Regions from separate parts of the Homo sapiens genome. Here region 2 is linked to region 1. Evidence: fine-mapped expression QTL. A gene starts in region 1. The other region holds a variant in brackets. All regions are shown on one strand. Distances are from middle to middle.

Region 1 (9,584 bases):
GAGTGAAAAGAGTGAAACTCCATCTCAAAAAAAAAAAAAAAGAGGATAGACTTGAGGTGAACTTTATTAAGAACATTGTGTTACCTTGAACTGGGCACTTCTCCCTTCTAGGTTTCAGCTTACCCTGTGAGTGAAGCTATTTATTTAAAAAAAACTTTATTGAAAATAAAATAAAGATACAGGAAACTACACAAAAGAAATGTATGGCTTAGTAAGTTACTACAAGGCAAACATGTTAATAATTACCAACCCAGGTCAAGAAACAGAATTTTCTCAGACAACCTAAAAGTCACAAAATGAGGCTATTTGCCAATTAAGGTTGTAGACCAAATGCTGTAGAATGAACTTCTTTTAATTCTATGTTGATGACTCTCTGTCACAATATTCACATCTCAGTGCAAAGAGAACACAAGAATGTCTAGCAAGAAAAGATGGACAAGTTTCTCAAACATTGGCAGTGTTACTTACATTGGCTAGGCAAAATTCAGAAGGCCTGGTGGAAATCTGGTTAAGCCCTAAAAGTAAGCTTGTAATTCTATCCTAGCAGCCCACACACATTTGAGTCTGTCTTAGTCAGCTCAGACTGCTATAACAAATCATCAACTGGGTGGCTTAAACAACAGAGATTTACTTCTCCCAGGTCCGAAAGCTGGAAGTCTAATATCAGTGATATAATTTGGATACTTTTCCCCCTAAATCTTACACTGAAATGTAATCCCATGTTGGAGGTGAGGCCTCCAACATGGTGGGAGGTGACTGCATCATGGAGGTGGACTTCTCATGAATAGTGTAGCACCATCGTCTTGGTGCTGCCCTCACAAGATCTGGTTGTTTAAAAGCGTGCGGCACCTCCTCCCACTTTTTTTCTTACTCCCACTCTTGCCATGTGATACATCAATACATCGGCTCCCCCTTGGCTTCCTGAGGCCTCACCAGAAGCAAGCAGATACCCAGAGCCATGCTTGCTGTACAGCCTACAGAACCATAAGCCAAGTAAACCTCTTTTCTTTATAACTTACTCAACCTCAAATATTTCTTTATAGCAATACAAGAATGGCCTAATACAATCAGGGTGCCAGGATGGTTGATGTGTGGTGAGGGCTCTTTCCCTGAGTTGCAGATGGCCGCCTTCTTGCTTTGTCATCACATGGCCTTTCCATTGAGCATGGGCGTGAATAGACAGCATGCGAGCAAGCTCTCCAGCGTCTCTTCTTCCCATAAGTACCCTGATCTCATCATGGGGGCCCCACTCTCATGAGCTCATCTAACCCTAATTACCCCTTGAAGGCCCCACCTCCAAACATTATAAAATTGGGAGTGGGAGTGCAAATGTATGAATTTTGGGGGGATACAATTTAGTCTACAGCATAGTCCAAATGTGAAATTTCTTCCTCCAGCTACCGATGTTTAGTGAGAACACTGCCTGTTCTCACCACATGTGCATATGTGTGTGGACTCTTTCCTCTGGAGGGCAAGAACTTGGTTTTGTTCACTGTTGTAACCAAGAGTTACAACAGTGCCTGGCTCATAATTGGCACTCAATATTGCCATTGAGTTATTTGTGATCAGAGCCCTGGCTGTTCTTAGATGGGGAGGGTTCTTCAGAACAGTACAAATGTTTGTAGACAGGCCAGCTGGGGAACCAAAGGTCTTTTTGATGAGGTGCCATGACCATGATGTAGTGGGGAGTGGCCAGGTGATCCAGAATTCAGTCTCAGTATGACCTATGATCATCTGAGTGACCTCAGGCAAAACTGTTCGATCTCTGGGACTTAGACTCTTCCTTATATAAAACAAATGGGTTGGTCAGTTCAGAAGTGCTATACTGATTCTAATCCATCCTATGGAGGAGGCCCCAAAACATTATCCTTAACCCTTTTAATCATAAATTTAAGGATAAATGAGATTTTATCTCACTCTGGGTGACTTTTAAGGACTTGAAAACCTACTTCTTTTTGTGCTTGGAGCTGGAGTGAATTTGAAGCCAGGGTTGCGGGGGTGGGGGAGGGGTACTCCTAGCTGTGGCTGTGTTAAAATTGCCCTGGTTTGTTTGGGGGAGAATCTAGGGTATTTATCATTTGTCTTTGCCCTGGTGCCAGACAGACAGCAGTGAGTAGATGATGCCTTTTACACAGCAATGTGCTAACAGTTATACTTCCTGGCACACCTCCAGCCCCCAAGATGGAATGGTCTGACATCCATATCAGCAGAGAATCAGAGAAAGATGAGACGCTCTGATGCTTAGGAAAGTCACAAACCATTGTTACACAGATAAGTAACACAAAATGACCCAAGAGAGACACAGCTGGGACCCAAGTAGACACTTGTAATTGGCGAGTCTACCCTACCCATGATTTTCAATATGGGGTCAATAGCTGATAGATACCAATGTTAGTTTCTTTGTCATGAAATCTTGATACAATGTGGTAAGAGTTTCCAATCAGCAGTTGGTGGCATCCTCAGGATATTGTTGATTGTATTTGACATCAAGGGCCACCCATGCTTTCACTGTTATCTTATTCAAGCTAGTGCAGATGTCTTAAAACTTTCTTCATGCATCAAAGCATCTGCATAGCTCAGATAAAGAATCCACAGCTCATGTGTTCTTTCTTATCTCTCCGGCTGTTTGGGAGAGATTTCAAAACTCAACACCCCACTGTCTCATGTAACCAAGTCAGGGCCACTATTAGAAAAGCAGCTCAAAGAAGATATCCTGGGTCATCCACAGTATCTTAGCTTATTTAATTCAGCAAGCACATTCAACATTTCTGATTATACTGAATACATTCAAATTCTCAGTCATCAGCTTCAGGAAGACCCTCCTGGCTCCCATCCCTTTTCCTGGCTCCCATCCCTTTTCCTGGCCTGGCTTAAGTCCCTTCTGGGCTCCCACAGGATCCCTTACCTAGCTATATTATTGCTTTTCTGTGGGTCGGTGCCAGCCTGTACTGTATTAATTCCTTTGGGGCTGGAACCATATCTTATTTTTTTAAATTAAAAAGTAGTACATCCTCACAATAGAAAACTTTTCAAATACAGAACTATATAAATGAAAAGTGAAAGTCCCTTTTCTGTCTGCTCCTATTTGCAATCTCCCTCCTCTCCCCACAGAAGACCACTATTAACAATGTGTTGTATACCCTTCCAGAACTTTCCATTTGCTAGCCTAATAGTGCTAATAAAAGTGTTAACAGTTATTGAGTGTTTACTAAGAGTCAAGTGCTATGCTCAGCATTTTTATGCACGTTCCCAATTAATTCACAAAACAAGCCTATGAAGTAGGTGTTATTTTTGTTCCCATTTCACAAAAGAAGAGACTAAGGTGACAGTTACTAAATGGTAAAGCCAGAATCTGAACATGGCCAGGCTGAATTCAGAGCTCCTGCCCTTGAACTTGTTCTCTCACTTGCTTCCGGACCTTGCAATATCATAGACACTTCCCCATAGTGACCTAAAAATGGTTTCTCCCTTTTTAAAAGTTGCTTGGTATTCTACAAAATGAATGTATTCCATTCATTTTGCCATTCTCCTACTGAACAACTTTTAGGATTTTGTAGTTTTTCATTTCCTTATTTCACCAAGTGTAAGATTCCATTATTGTAAAAAGCATCCAGTTTCAGAAATTAAAATATATGGGGGCATGGGGGGTGACAAGTGCATCTTAGAATATATTTTTGCATGTAAATATTTTGTAGATAATGCTTGTAAATAATTTTCATGTGTGTATTTCTGCACAAGTTTCCTAGGAGTAAAATTGTGTGTCAAAATGAAGGTGCATTTTTAAATTTTGATGCATACTGCTGAATTCCCCCCAGGAAACCTTATCTTAGTCATCTTGTGTTCCTCATTTCCTTAGCACAATGTCTGGTACTTTTTTAGGTACTAAATAAATGTTCAGTGGGTGAAATGCATGACCTGACCCGGCAAATGCAAAGTATTTTGAGATATTCACACACCAAAAAACCCACAAAATATGACAATGACTGACAATGAGAAGATGAGAATATTTTACTACCGTATTTGTATGCACTTCTTGTTGAAGCACTGACCAGAGTAAATGACAAACGCTAATGCATCTTATGCAGAAGGATGTTTCCGAAGTGATTACAAGATATCTTGCAAAATTACCTATCAAAAGATTGCACACTCAATAAAAATACACGAATAACTCCAGCATTTTACAACCCCCAACCTACTAGACATAAGAAATTTCCAGAGATCTTATGGTCTGCCATTTTTTCAAATACCTGCAAGACTGCCTGCACCCCCGACCCTAATCTGTAGAAATCATGATTCTGCAGGTCTGCAGTGGGGGATGCATTTAACAAGCGCTCCAGGTTAACCTAATGCACTGTAAAGCGTGAGAACACGTGCATTAAAAGGGCTTTAAGAAGTGGAGTTTCTGAATCAGATTTGCATTTTAGAAAGATCCCTCTGGCTGCAGAGTGTAGAATCAACTATAAGTGAGCAAAGATAGCTAAATGGCATTATTCAGCCCAGCGCATGAACGGCTCAGATTGCCCGCGCGCTGGGGTGCCCCCTGCCGGCCCTCGGCAGCGCCTCGTCCTGGGCCTGGCCCTGGGCGGCCGGCTGCTGACTGCGACTGCGCGCTCCGAGGCCTGCAGAGACGGCCCGGGGCACCTGTTACCGCACCGCTCAAGACCGGAAGCGGAAATGGAATCGAGATAGCCTCGCGCGTTTAGCTGGCCGCCGCCACCTCCACGCCCTAGGCCGGGCCGACTTACGGAGTCGCCGGAAGCGGAAGTCGCTGAGGGGTGGTGAAGCGGTTGGGAAAGTGTCGGTTTATCTTCGCGCCCCTTGCGTTCTTGCCGCGGCTTGCCTGGGCAGGTAAAGCGCGATTGCGAGAGCTCGGCAACCCTGCCGACTCAGCCGGAACCGGCTCCCGGCCCGAGGGGCGTGGTGTCCTGGTGCTCCGACTCCTTCCGCAGGCTCCTTGGGACCCGCGGTTCCGGGAGTCCCTTGCTCAGGGTCCCTTTCCTGCAGTGAGGCGCCGTCCGCCTTCCCTGTGTCCCCGCAGACCCCCATCATGGGCAATACCAGCAGTGAGCGCGCCGCGCTGGAGCGGCATGGTGGCCATAAGACGCCCCGGAGGGACAGCTCGGGGGGCACCAAGGACGGGGACAGGCCCAAGATCCTGATGGACAGCCCCGAAGACGCCGACCTCTTCCACTCCGAGGAAATCAAGGTGCGAGCGGTGTGGAGGAACCCGATTCCCCTTGACTAATGTTGAGGAGAGGAACCCTCCACTAGATTCCCGTCACATCCTTTCGAAAAACACCAGAACGGAGAGGGAGGTGGTACATTACCCGGTGCACTTAAAAGCCAGATGGTCCTGTAAGAGTTCTCTTAGCGGTCCAAGAACCTGTGTCTAATTACCAATATGAGAAAGTCACCCTGAGGGAGGAGGTGCTCACTTGGTTTAACATCATTAAGGAGAAAGCAGCTCTGGGACAGAGTTTCAAATTCTTAATTAATTCAGAGTCGAGCTAACAGTAATTGAGCCCCAGCTTCTGCTTTTCTCTTAGGTGTAATTAATTGCACTGCTTTGAGACAAATTCCCTCACCTTTACACAAACTGGAGCTTTTGTAAAAGTTAGTTTGGGAATTTATCCATTTTGGAGGCAAACCAGGTACATATACAAGCTGAAAGTAGAGCGGAACAGCTGACGGCAGTTGCCAGAGGTGTTTAGTTCTGCCCAACACTTTTGATTCACCCTACTTATTTTTTAAAAGACGGTGGTCTCACTAATTAGCCGGGCGTGGTGGCGGGCGCCTGTGGTCCCAGCTACTCGGGAGGCTGAGGCAGGAGAATGGCGTGAACCCGGGAGGCGCAGCTTGCAGTGAGCCGAGGTCGCGCCACTGCACTCCAGCCTGGGCGACAGAGCTAGACTTCGTCTCAAAAAAAAAATATAAATAAAAATAAAAAAGACGGTGGTCTCACAATGTTCTCCAGGCTGGTCTCGAACTCCCGGGTTCAAGCAATCTTTATGCCTTGGCCTCCCAAAGTGCTGGGATCGCAGGCGTGAGCTACGGTGCTGGCCGGTTCAGCCTACTTTTTTTTTTTTTTGAGACCGAGTCTCGCTCTGTCGCCCAGGCTGGAGTGCAGTGGCGCGATCTCGGCTCACTGCAAGCTCCGCCTCCTAGGTTCACGCCATTCTCCTGCCTCAGCCTCCCGAGTAGCTGGGACGACAGGCACCCGCCACCACGCCCGGCTAATTTTTTATATTTTTAGTAGAGACGGGGTTTCACCGTGTTAGCCAGGATGGTCTCCATCTCCTGACCTCAGGAGATCCGCCTGCCTCGGCCTCCCAAAGTGCTGGGATTACAGGCGTGAGCCACTGAACCCACCCTACTTATTTTTTTTTTTTCCTTCTTTGAGATGGAGTCTCACTCTGTTGCCCAGGCTGGAGGGCAGTAGCACAATCTCGGGGCACTGCAACCTTCGTCTCCCGGACTCAAACCATCCTGCCTCAGCCTCCCGAGTAGCTGGGACTACAGGCGTGTGCCACCATGCCTGGCTAATTTTGTGTATTTTTGGTAGAGGTGGGGTTTCGCCATGTTGCCCAGGTTGGTCTTGAACTCCTGACCTCAAGTGATCCGCCCGCCTGGGCCGCCCAAAGTGCTGCGATTACAGGCATGAGCCACCACTCCCGGCCTCACCCTGCTTTTTTTTAAAGCGTACATAGAAAAGTCTTTCAGCTTCTAGAGGTCAGTGGGCGGTGAGGGTCTGTCTGAAGGAGGCAGCCAGCAGCTACTGAACTTCTCTCTAGTGTTGTTTAAATATGACTTAATCGTGCTTAAGCAGGCCAGTGCAAACATTTTTCTTCCTGCTGCAGCCTGTTTAAATTCAAAAACTCAGGTGACTTAACTCCTGCTTCAACCACACTCCTGTTAACCACCTTCATATGGTGGATATTTCCAGCCGCAGGGCTCAGTCCAAGGACACTTAGTGATTCTGGCAGCTGGTATTTATGTGTTATGTCCAAAAGGAACTAATTGTTTCAAGGAACAAAGTAGGTTTAGGAAAGATAAAGCTGCCCTCTGCCCAACATACCCTGTTAGTATCCAATTTCATGTTAATCATCATCCATTTAATTGCTTGGCAGCTCATTCCATCTGTGTTTGTCCTCATGTTGAGCGAGGTGATCACATCTCACACCTTCTTTTGGATCTTAGTTTTGAGCCTGACTACAAAGAGGCTGCTTTTATGTGGCCCTACAACCTGTGGTTTGAACTTGCTCTCTGAATTTGTTGCATTCTTGAAGAGCTGTGTGCAAAGTGAACTTTAGAATCATGTTTCTCTAATGACTTGACGTCCTTTCCCCAGGAGGTAATTTTGGTCCCTGGTCCCAAGAAGGCTATTTAAGACACCAAAGGAATCAAAACTACTTTCTTCAGAAGTATTTGTTCTGTTACTATTCCAAAACTCCTCCAGGAAATGTTGAGCACACACATCATCTATGGGGAATGATTTCAAGCAGCGTCCATTCTCACTTCATTAGAAGTTACTGAAATCCCCAGATACCAAAAAAGTCGTGAATTCTTTTAACTACACTAGGGTGCTATTTTGGTCATAATTAGTTATCCTTAGTGTGAAGTGATTCCAGTCTGTTATTTAATATGTAGATCTTGTTAGAATTCAAAGAATACAGGCATCATTTGGATAAGCTGAGGTCGGTATTTGAGATGAAGGTGCTAGAAGCCTGCTTAACTCCCTGAAGAGTCTTTTCCAGCCTGAACCTTCTGCTCTTTTTAAGTCTTTGGCTTCTGACTGGGAAAAAATCTAAAAGGTGCATGACTACATATGTCATCCAGATAGATTTGGATGAGTTTATTTCTTATTCTGGAATACCTCAGTTATACGGAGCTTACCACACTGGAGGTTATCATTTATCCTAATGAGGGTTCAGTCTTTGTCTTGCTTTATTCCCCAGTCCCTAGACAGAACTTTGTGAGTAGTTTTTCCCTTCCTCAAAATCTGGATTTGCCTATTTTCAAGTTGACAGCTCTAGAATTGTTCCTCTTAAATTTTCATGTACAGTCATACATCACTTAATGACAGGGACATATTCTGAGAAATACATCATTAGGTGATTTTATCATTGTGTGAACATCATAGAGTGTACTTACACAAACCTAGTCTGTTCTCATGCTACTATGTAGAAATACCCGAGACTGGGTAATTTATAAAGAAAAGAGGTTTAATTGACTCAGTTCCGCATGGCTGGGGAGGCCTTAGGAAACTTACAATCATGGTAAAAGGCACCTCTTCACAGGACGGCAGAAGAGAATGAGAGCAAGCAGGGGAAATGCCAGATGCTTATAAAACCATCAGATCTCATGAGACTCACTCACTGTCAGAGAACAGCATGGGGAAACCGCCCCCATGATCGATACCTCCACCTGGTCCTGCCCTTGACACGTGGGGATTATGGGGATTACAATTCAAGGTGAGATTTGGGTGGGGACGCAGAGCCAAACCGTATCACCTAGTCTATATGGTGTAACCTGTTGCTTATGGACTATAAACCTGTACAGCATGTTATTCTACTGAATACTGTAGACACTTATTCCACAAGTATATTTAAGGATTTGTGTACTTAAATGTATCTAAACATAGAAAAGATAACAATAAAAATATGGTATAATCTTATGGGACTACCATATACACAGTCCGTCGTTGACTAAGACATCATGCACATGACTGTACTTCAAATCTTGCTTGATTAAGGGAGGAACATGACATTAAGCTAGTCTTGGATTCGTAGTAGCCCCTTCCAAGTGTGTTTCATAGCTTCTTCTAGAATTTTGATGTCAACTTCTTTAATGACAACAATAGCTAATAATTAGCACTCACTGTGTCAGACACTATATAGAGCACTTACATGGACTGTCTCAGTCTTCACAACCTTAAAAAATATATTTCTATTTTGCAGGCAAGGAAACTGAGGCACCACTAGTAAGTTTCCGATCCTAACCATGAACCAAGATAGTAACAGCTGCGTCTTTAGAATGAATTGTCAATATTGTCTGTTGTAGGGAGCTCGCTTATGGCTTTCTGAGTAAACTGCTCTGCTTCTAGGCACCAGAGAAGGAGGAATTCCTGGCCTGGCAGCATGATCTGGAAGTGAATGATAAAGCTCCCGCCCAGGCTCGGCCAACGGTGTTTCGATGGACGGGGGGCGGAAAGGAAGTTTACTTATCTGGGTCCTTCAACAACTGGAGTAAACTTCCCCTCACCAGAAGGTAATTGCCTGGGGAGTGTTCACATATTTGTCTTAACATAAATTCTCTTCTTTCTAAAACATCTCTGAGAGAGAACAGAAAATGGATGTTTCTATAAAATGGATGCCTAGTGGAAAAATAATTTTGCTTAATAAGTCTTAAGGTTCAAATGTTAAACCTTGGTGGTCTCTAGGTTTAGAGTACAGAAGAAAGAGAATATTTCTGTGTCACAGACATCTTTCACTTCAGATCCTCAGCTATCTGTTCGGTCAGGACTTTTCCACAGAAACACAAAAATCTGTCTTAATGCAGTAAGGGAGCACTGGGCTGGAATCTTA
Region 2 (9,584 bases), 100 kb before region 1:
TGGCTCAAGTGATTCTCGTGTCTCAGCCTCCTGAGTAGCTAGGATTATAGGTGCTCAACATCATGCCTGGCTAAATTTTTGTATTTTTAGTAGATGGGGTTTCACCACGTTGGCCAGCCTGGTCTGGAACTCCTGACCTGAAGCAATTGGCCTACCTCAGCCTCCCAAAATGCTGGGATTACAGGTGTGATCCGCCACACCTGGCTGCAATCTCCTCTTCTGAAAAGGTCATGGAGGGAAGAAATGCATCTCTCTAAAGAATACTTTGTGTGATGGAGAGGAAAGGCTTCTCCTTCTCTCTCTCTGGAACAAAGTGGAAGTTGGGATTTGGAGGAGAGATAGTCAAAGACTCCAACGACATGGGAAACAGGATGAGCCCACGACACCATGGCAGGAGAAAAAGGTTCACCAGTTGGGGTGCTCATGAGCACGATGCATGAGCTCTAAAATATGTGAAGTCCGGGATTTAGGGTCCAGGCTTTCCTATGATGTTTTTCTGCTCTCACCTCCAGATCTCCAGTAAAAGAAATGGGGCTAATTAGGGCAATGAAAGATGTCTAGCAGAGAACTTAGGAGGAGGCTCCCAGAGGAATACTCTTAAAACAGATGTGGGAACATGAAAGCATTCCTCAAGGACCCCCAGAAATGCCCAGGGAGCACTACCTGGTATAAAACTGCAATTCTTTTGGATCAACGCAAAACAGAGCTCAATTATATAACAACTGTAATGGAAGATGACCCATGAAAGCTGGAAAATCCCAAGACATCTGGGTAACAATGAACTCCACAGAAACGACTGAGATCAATTCTGTATTCAGAAATAGAAAGACAATGGTGAGGCTGGGCGCAGTGGCTCAATGCCTGTAATCCCAGCACTTTGGGAGGCCAAGGAGAGTGGATCACAAGGTCAGGAGTTCAAGACCAGCCTGGCCAACATGGTGAAACCCCATCTCTATTAAAAATACAAAAATTAGCCGGGCGTGTTGGTGGACGCCTGTAATCCCAGCTACTGGGGAGGCTGAGACAGGAGAATTGCTTGAAACCGGAAGGCAGAGGTTGCAGTGAGCCGAGATCACCCACTGCACTCCAGCCTGGGCGAAAGAGCAAAACTCCGTCTCAAAAAAAAAAAAAAAGAGAGAGAAAGACAATGGTGAGCAAGATGGACATGGTCTTGAACCTCACAGATAAATATTCAACAAGTACGTACTTGTGGATTCCAATGGATGTGACAGTCTAGTAAGAGTTTTGGCAAACTTTTTCTGTAAAGGAACAGAAAATAAATATTTGAGACTTTGTGAGTCGTATGGTCTCTGCTGAACTCGGCCATGGTGGTGTGAAAGCAGTCACAGACAATGCATAAACAAACAGGCAATGCTGTGTTCCCATTAAGCTTTATTTAAGGATACTGCAATTTGAATTTCATACAATTTTCACATGTCAGAGACTATTATTCTCTTTTTTAGCTACTTAAAAATGCAAAAATTATTCTTAGTTCTCAGGTCATACAAAAACAGGTGGCAGGATGGATGTGGACCATGGGGTGTGGTTTGGCTACTCCTGGTTGAAGGTTAGGCCTAAGACATACATAATAATAATTAATTAAAAATAAGCCGGGCGCAGTGATTCACACCTGTAATCCTAGCACTTTATGAGGCTGAGGTGGGTGGATCACCTAAGGTCAGGAGTTCGAGACCAGCCTGGCCAACATGGCGAAACCCCGTCTCTACTAAAAATACAAAAATTAGCTGGGCGTGGTGACGGGTGCCTGTAATCCCAGCTACTTGGGAGGCTGAGGCAGAGAATCACTTGAACCAGGGAGGCAGAGATTGCAGTGAGCCGAGATCACACCACTGCACTCCAGCCTGGGCAACAGAGCAAGACTCTATCTCAAAAATAATAATAATAATAATAACAATAAATAAAAATAGCTTATGGTCTTGAGCACAGGTCTAAGTGCCAGGTGCTATGCCAAGTATGCTTTGCTATAATGATATTACACTTATAATTTGGAATTTTTTTTAGAGCTCTGTCACTCAGGCTGGAGTGCAATGGCACAATTAGAGCTCATTATAACCCTGAACTCCTGGGCTCAAGCGATCCTCCCACCTCAGCCTCCTAAGTAGCTGGGGCTACTGGCAGATGCCACCATACCCAGCTGATTTCTTTAAATTTTTTGTAGAGATGAGGTCTGACTATGTTGCCCAGGCTGGTCTTGAACTCCTGGCCTCGAGCAATCCTCCCACCTCAGCCTTCCAAAGCACTGAGATTACAAGCATGAGCCACTGCACCCAGCCTATAAATTGGCTTTCTTCTCAACTTTCTTGAGTGAGAAAGAAGAGAGGGGTATTGCACTAATTTTCCAAGAATTTAGCATAACTGGGTGGTGTCATCCTGTCTCTTCAAAGAAAATGTCAAAATGACTGCCCTGGGCACCTCCTCTCAAGCTCTCCAAATGCCAAGCAAGAAAGGATCATTGGGTCCAATCTTGCCACTCTCTCTATATATATTTTAAAAACTATTTAGTGGCTGGGCACGGTGGCTCACACCTGTAACCCCAGCACTTTGGGAGGCTGAGGCAGGCAGATCACCTGAGGTCCAGAGTTGGAGACCAGCCTGGCCAACATGGTGAAACCCAGTCTCTACTAAAAATACAAAAATTAGGCCGGGCGCGGTGGCTCACACCTGTAATCCCAGCACTTTGGGAGGCCGAGGCGGGTGGATCACGAGGTCAGGAGATCGAGACCATCCTGGCTAACACGGTGAAACCCCGTCTCTACTAAAAAATACAAAAAATTAGCCGGGCGTGGTGGTGGGCGCCTGTAGTCCCAGCTACTTGGGAGGCTGAGGCAGGAGAATGGCGTGAACCCGGGAGGCGGAGCTTGCAGTGAGCCAAGATTGTGCCACTGCACTCAAGCTTGGGCGACAGAGCGAGACTCTGTCTCCAAAAAAAAAAAAATTAGCCAGGCGTGGTGGTGCGTACCTGTAATCCCAGCTACTCAGGAGGCTGAGGTAGGAGAATAGCTTGAACCCAGAAGGTGGAGGTTCCAGTGAGCTGAGATTGCACCACTGCCCTCCAGCCTTGGAGACAGAGTGAGACTCTGTCTCAAAAAAATAAAAATAAATAAATACATATATGTTTTTAAAAACCTATTTAGACAGAATTAACGGAAAATGCACCCAAACATAGCAACCATCCTGCCACCTCTGGTGACTCCATTTACCACCAGTTCCCCTTGCCCCAGTGACCATCTAACTTCTGGTCACAAATTGGCAAAAGGGATCACAGAAAACCAAGTGGCCTTGGGTCACCAGACCATCCTGCCCAACAAGGCAACCTTTGCTAAGAGTGACTCACTGTGGCAGAGAGGCAAGTTTAACAGGCATCTGGGCAGGAAGCACTGCCCTGTTTATTGATGGCAAACTGTTTGCCAGAGTAAGAGCTCTTTGGGGACTTCTGAAGGTGTTTGGCAAGCCCCAGTCCCGAAGGCTACTGTGCGCTAAGAAAGGACCTGTGGGCCTCTGAAAACTCAGCAGCTAAAAGGTCACCGCCCCAGAAGCCTATTAAGGAAACAGCATGAAAAGTTCTCCATCCCAGGAGGATGCATGGGAGCGAGCTACCATGTCTTTTTTTTTTTTTTTTTTTTGAGACCGAGTTTCGCTCTTATTGCCCAGGCTGGAGTGCAGTGTCACGATCTCAGCTCACTGCAACCTCCGCCTCCCAGGTTCAGGCGATTCTCCTGCCTCAACCTTCCTGAGTAGCTGGGATTATAGGCACGCACCACCATGCATGGCTGATTTTGTATTTTTAGTAGAGATGGCGTTTCTCCATGTTGGCCACGCTGGTCTCGAACTCCCAGCCTCAGATGATCCACCCGCCTCAGCCTCCCAAAGTGCTGAGATTACAGGCATGAGCAACCAAGCCCAGCCTACCACGTATCTCTTTAAGAGATGCCCCTCCTCTAGGAGTAAGTCACGCCCTCGACCCCATTCCCTGTAACTTCTCCCTTGGAGAAGTTCTCCCTTAGAGCAATTTGCAAAACTGTAATTCGGTATGTGTGTATATTTTATACCCACACGGCTTCAAGTTCTGTAAGTGTGTTTGCTGTGCTGTAATCCACTTAGCACAGTGCCAGACGCATGATAAAAACCTGTTGACCACATGAGATATCACCTCACACCCATGAGGATGGCTATAGTCAAAAGAAATTGAAAATAACAAATATTAGTGATGATAGGGAGAAACTGGAACCCTTGTGTACCATTGGTGAGAATGTAAAATAGTGTAGCTGTTACAGAAAACAGTATGGCAGTTCTTCAAAACATTAAAAAGAGAGTTGAAAGCACGGCCTCAAAAAGAGACTTGTATACCTATTTTCATAGCATTATTCACAACAGCCAAAAGGTGGAAGCAACCGAACTGTCCACCGACAGCTATTTAGGTTTGTGAAACAAAACCCAATCCAAGCCCACTCAAGCAAAAAAACAAAAATTCATTGGCTCAAATGAAAAAAAAGAAATCCAAAGATAGATGTTTCAGCCATAGCAGGATCCAGGTGTTCAAAATGGAAGATTTCAACACATATCTTGCAGTAACTGAGTCTTTGAACAACACAATTTAAAAATCTGATTTAATAGATATATACAGAACCCAGTACCCAACAATTAGAGAACACACATTCTTCTCAATTACATATGAAACAGTTACAAAAAGTGACCACATTTCAGGCAGTAAAGTGTTTCAACAACTTTCAAAGAATCAATGTCATATAGATTATGATCTCTGATCAGAATGTAATGGAGTCGATAACAAAAAGAAAACAAAAAATGTTGACCTTAGAGAATGTGCTTCTCAATTTTAAAAAGAAGAACATGCTTCTATATAACATGAATCCAAGAAAAATCATAATGAAAATGTACAAATACTTACAATTGAAAATAATGAAAATGCTATAAATTAAAGTTTATGGGATGCATCTAGTGAAGTACTTCAAAAAATGTATATTCTTAAATTTTTATATTAAAAATAAAGGCTAAAAATTAGTGAACTAAGTATCCAGGTTAGGAAGTTATAAATATAACAAAGTAAGCTCAAAGAAAGAAGGAAGGCAATAGTAATAGTAAAAAGAATATAAATTAATAGGCCGGTTGCAGCAGCTCATGCCTGTAATCCCAGCACTTTGGGAGGCCAAGGCAGGTGGATCACCTGAGATCAGGAGTTCAAGACCAACCTGGCCCACCTGGTAAAACCCCATCTCTACTAAAAATACAAAACATTGGCCGGGCATGGTGGCACACACCTGTAATCCTAGCTACTCGGGAGCCTGAGTCAGGAGAAT[C/T]GCTTGAACCCTTGGAGGTGGAGGTTGCGGTGAGCCAAGATCATGCCATTGTACTCCAGCCTGGGCGACAAGAGCAAAAACTCCATCTCAAAAATATATATATTATATATATATATAAAATATATAATATATATTATAATATATGTATTATATATAATATATATAAATTATATATAATATATAATATATATAAATTATAATATATAATATATATAATATAATATATATTATATATAAATAAATAAATGATTTTTTAAAAAATGAAATGTTGGTTCTTCAAGAAAAAATAATAACAGATGCAGGTCTCTGGTGAGATTGATCTAGTAAAGAGAGAGAAAAAGCACAAATGGAGAATATGTCTAAAAATACGTAAAAGAGAGATTTTAAAAGATAATGAAATACTATGAAAAACTTCATGACAATAAATTTGACAGTTTAGACTACATGGAAAATTATATATGGAAAATTATATATTTTACAAAACTGGCTCAGAAAGAAACAGAAAACAAGAATAGTTCTAAAACGAAGAAAATTTGTCAGTAATTTAAAATATTTCCTCAAAGGAAAGAAAAAGATCTAGATAGAATTGTAAAAACTTACAGCAAATTTTCAAGAAACAGATAATTCCAATTTTATACAAGTGCTTCCGAAGAATTCCTGAGAGGAAATGTACCCGTTAATCTAATATAATTCCGATACCAAAACCAGACAGAAAATGAAAAAGGAAAGTTACAGGATAATCTTGCAAATAAATATATGTGCAAAAATCCTAAATATCGGAAAGCAAAACCTAGCTATATGTTCATGAAATATATCATTCATATATCGTATCGTAAACTATATCATATAATAAAATCCTTCATGGCCAATTTGGCTTATACCATGAACGTAAGATTAGCTTAACCTTTAAAAATCCTTTAATGTAAATTGTCACATTTTCAGATCAAAGGAAAAAAACTATATGATCTTGTCAATGGATGAAGAAAAGGCATTGGATAGAATTCAACATTCATTTGTAATTTGTTTTAAAAAACAGAGCACACTTAGCAAACTAGGAATAGGAGAAAAAAAATAGTTAACTTGATAAACGTGTCTACCTAAAACCTGTAACAGAAATCATAATTGCAGGTAAAATTTAGAAGTATTCCCTTTAGAGGAGGGAACAAAAGAAGGGTGCTCATTCTCACTTCTTCCATTCAAAATTGTACTGGATACCCCAGCCAATGCAATAATACGAGATGAATTAAACCAAGGTAGAATGATTAAAATATGGCAACAAAATGAATTATTTGCAATGAATGTGATTATTCACATAGAAACTGCAAAGACTCTATAAATTATTAGAATAAATTAGGCAATTTAGCAAGGTAATTGAATATAATAGTGATATAAAATTTAACTGTATTTATCTGCATCAACAACAAACAGAAATATAACATTTAAAATACTCAACAGGCCAGGCACAGTGTCTCACGCCTGTAATCCCAGTACTTTGGGAGGCCAAGACGGGCGGATCACTTGAGGTCAGGAGTTCGAGACCAGCCTGGCCAACACGGTGAAACTGCATCTCTACTAAAAATACAAAAATTAGCTGGGCTTGAACCCAGGAGGCAGAGGTTGCAGTGAGCCGAGATCATGCCACTGCACTCCAGCCTGGGTGACAGAGCGAGACTCCTTCTTAAAAAATAATAAATAATAAAATAAAATACTCAATGATGATGGCAAAATAAACTGGTAGCCAGAAATACAGATATTTTAAAAATAAGCAGAGCCTCAAGTGGAAAATTATACAACTATACAACTCCCTTGAAAGACATTAAAGACATATTTATATCAAGAAAGACATTTCTCCCCAAATTGATTATATAAATATTCAGGCAATTTCAAATGAAATTCTAATAAAGTTTTTTGTGAAACTTGAAAAGCTAATTCCAAAAGAGAAAAAAGCCAAAGACAGCCACGACATTTTTTGGAAAAGAAAAAGAAATCAAGACTTACCTTAGAAAACTATAGCAATTAAGATAGTACTTTATTGGTGCAAAAATATTAAAAATAGTTTAATTAAACAGAGTAGAGAGTGCAGACACAGTACTAGACATACGACAAAAGAAATATCACAGGTCACTAGGAAAAGTATACCCCTACTCTATAAACACCACTAGGACAATAAGCTATCTGTAAAAAAATTTTTTTTAATTTGATTTCTACTTCACACTATTAAAAAATACAGCTCCAAATGGATTAAAGACTTAAATGTGAGACCGGGCATGGTGGCTCACACCTGTAATCCCAGCATTTTGAGAGACCGAGGCAGGTGGATCACTTGAGGTCAGGAGTTCAAGACCAGCCTGGCCAACATGGCCAAACCCCATCTCTACTAAAAATACAACAATTAGCTGGGCTTGGTGGTGTGCACCTGTAATCCCAGCTACTCAGGAGACTGAGGCAGGAGAATCACTTGAACTCATGAGGCGGAGGATGTAGTGAGCTGAGATCACACTACTGCACTCCAGCCTGGATGATGAGACTCCGTCTCAAAAAAAAAAAAAAAAAAAAAGACTTAAATGTGAAAATAAAAGTCTAAATTTTTGAAGAAAATATGAATGACCTTGAGTTTAATAAAGGATTTCTAAACGAGTTATCATAAAGGAAAACTGAGTTCTATGCTCAGATATATTTGGCAATATAAAAACTTCTACTTACAACGTCATAAACAGGGGACTTCACTTCTGGTTCTGATGAACTAGCCTGTATCAGAATGTTCCTGGCAAAAGCAATTTGAAAAGATTAATAAATGCCCAAAAAATCTATCTGAAGGCATTGCAAAGATATCAAAGCAGCCAGGGCTTAAGAGGTTAAAGTTCTCTGAGCCCGCCGAGGTTAGTCTGACATTCTATGCCATCTTCTGCCAATTTGTCAATAGCACCAAGCTAAGAAACTGAGAAGAAAGTGGATATAAGAGGTTGAGCTGTTTAGCAAAGCTTTCCACCATCACAACAGTACTGGAGAAGCAAAATAAGAGCTCAGGATCTAACAAGGAGAAAGGTCACAGGTTGCATTAGTCTGTTTTCACACTGCTATAAAGAACTACCCGAGACCGGGTAATTTATAAAGGAAAGAGATTTAATTGATTCACAGTTCCGAGTGGCTGGGGAGGCCTCAGGAAACTTACAATCACGGTAGAAGGTAAAGGAGAAGCAAAGGCACATCTTACGTGGCAGCAGGAGAGAGAAGTGAGAGCACAGGAAAAACTGCTGCTTTTAAAACCATCAGATCTTGTGAGAATTTCCTCACTATCACAAGAACAGTATGGGGGAAACTGCCCCGTGATCCAATCACTTCCCCTCCTCCACACGTGAGGATTACAGTTCGAGATGGGATTTGGGTGGGGACACAGAGCCAAACCATATAACAGGAAAGCACACCCAGGCTTTCACTTGAATTTCAATGAAAGGGCTGTCCCTTTCACTGAAAAGGGCTATACGCCAAAAGTGAGGGCAAACCAGAAATAAGACGCCAAAAGTGAGGGCAAACCAGAAATAAGACAAACCTCATGAAGACTGAACCCAGTGATGTGCCAGAGCTGGCTCATATCAACTTCTGAGGAGCCAGTTGTTAAATTTACATTAATTCTGTGAACCACCTGTTAAATGCAGCCATTATTTAAAATGATTATATGAACTTACAATTAAATAAATTATATTTAAAACAAAGATGATGACCAGGCACTATGGCTCCTGCCTGTAATCCCACCACCTTGGGAGGCGAACGTGGGTGGATCGCTTGAGTTCTAGACCAGCCTGGCTGACATGGTGAAACTCTGTCTCTACTAAAAATACAAAAATTAACCAAGTGTGGTGACGCATACCTGTAATCCCAGCTACTCAGGAAGCGGAGGTGGGAGGATCACTTGAGCCTGGGAGGCAGAGTTTGCAGTGAGCTAAGATTGTGCCACTGCACTCCAGCCTGGGCAACAGAGTGAGACTCCCACTCAAAAATAAATAAATAAATAAATAAAACAAAGATAATAAAAATTCAATGTTTTCCAATTATTTTACAATATTTTATTATTATTGATGCTTCGAGGTTATTTCTTTCTATAGCATATATATGGTAGAAACACTATATAATGGTGTGCTAACTATACATCTCTTTCCAACATCACACTTAGTGACCTCAGGTTGGTGAGAATATTTACACCACAGAAATTGGTAACATTACAAATAAACCTTGATTAACTGTTTTGTT

Evidence for each region.
Region 2: its variant is fine-mapped to the expression of PRKAB1-AS1 in skeletal muscle (GTEx, PIP 0.96).

The regions. Positions count from the first base shown.
Region 1 is chr12:119,663,198-119,672,781 of GRCh38, forward strand. It overlaps PRKAB1-AS1 (PRKAB1, TMEM233 and CCDC60 antisense RNA 1), which reads right to left and starts at 4,930. Exons shown (of 3, transcript NR_188494.1): 1 at 4,746-4,930. PRKAB1 (protein kinase AMP-activated non-catalytic subunit beta 1) reads left to right here and starts at 4,936. Exons shown (of 7, transcript NM_006253.5): 1 at 4,936-5,206; 2 at 9,104-9,267. The coding sequence starts at 5,048. RefSeq lists enhancers at 2,504-2,648, 4,783-5,192, 5,631-6,266, a cis regulatory region at 2,568-2,585 and a silencer at 4,413-4,682.
Region 2 is chr12:119,562,228-119,571,811 of GRCh38, forward strand. All of the region lies in intron 1 of PRKAB1-AS1 (PRKAB1, TMEM233 and CCDC60 antisense RNA 1), which reads right to left. Among named protein-coding and RNA genes, the nearest start is that of TMEM233, 27 kb to the right of the region's middle. The variant C/T (reference allele first, on the strand shown) is at 5,337.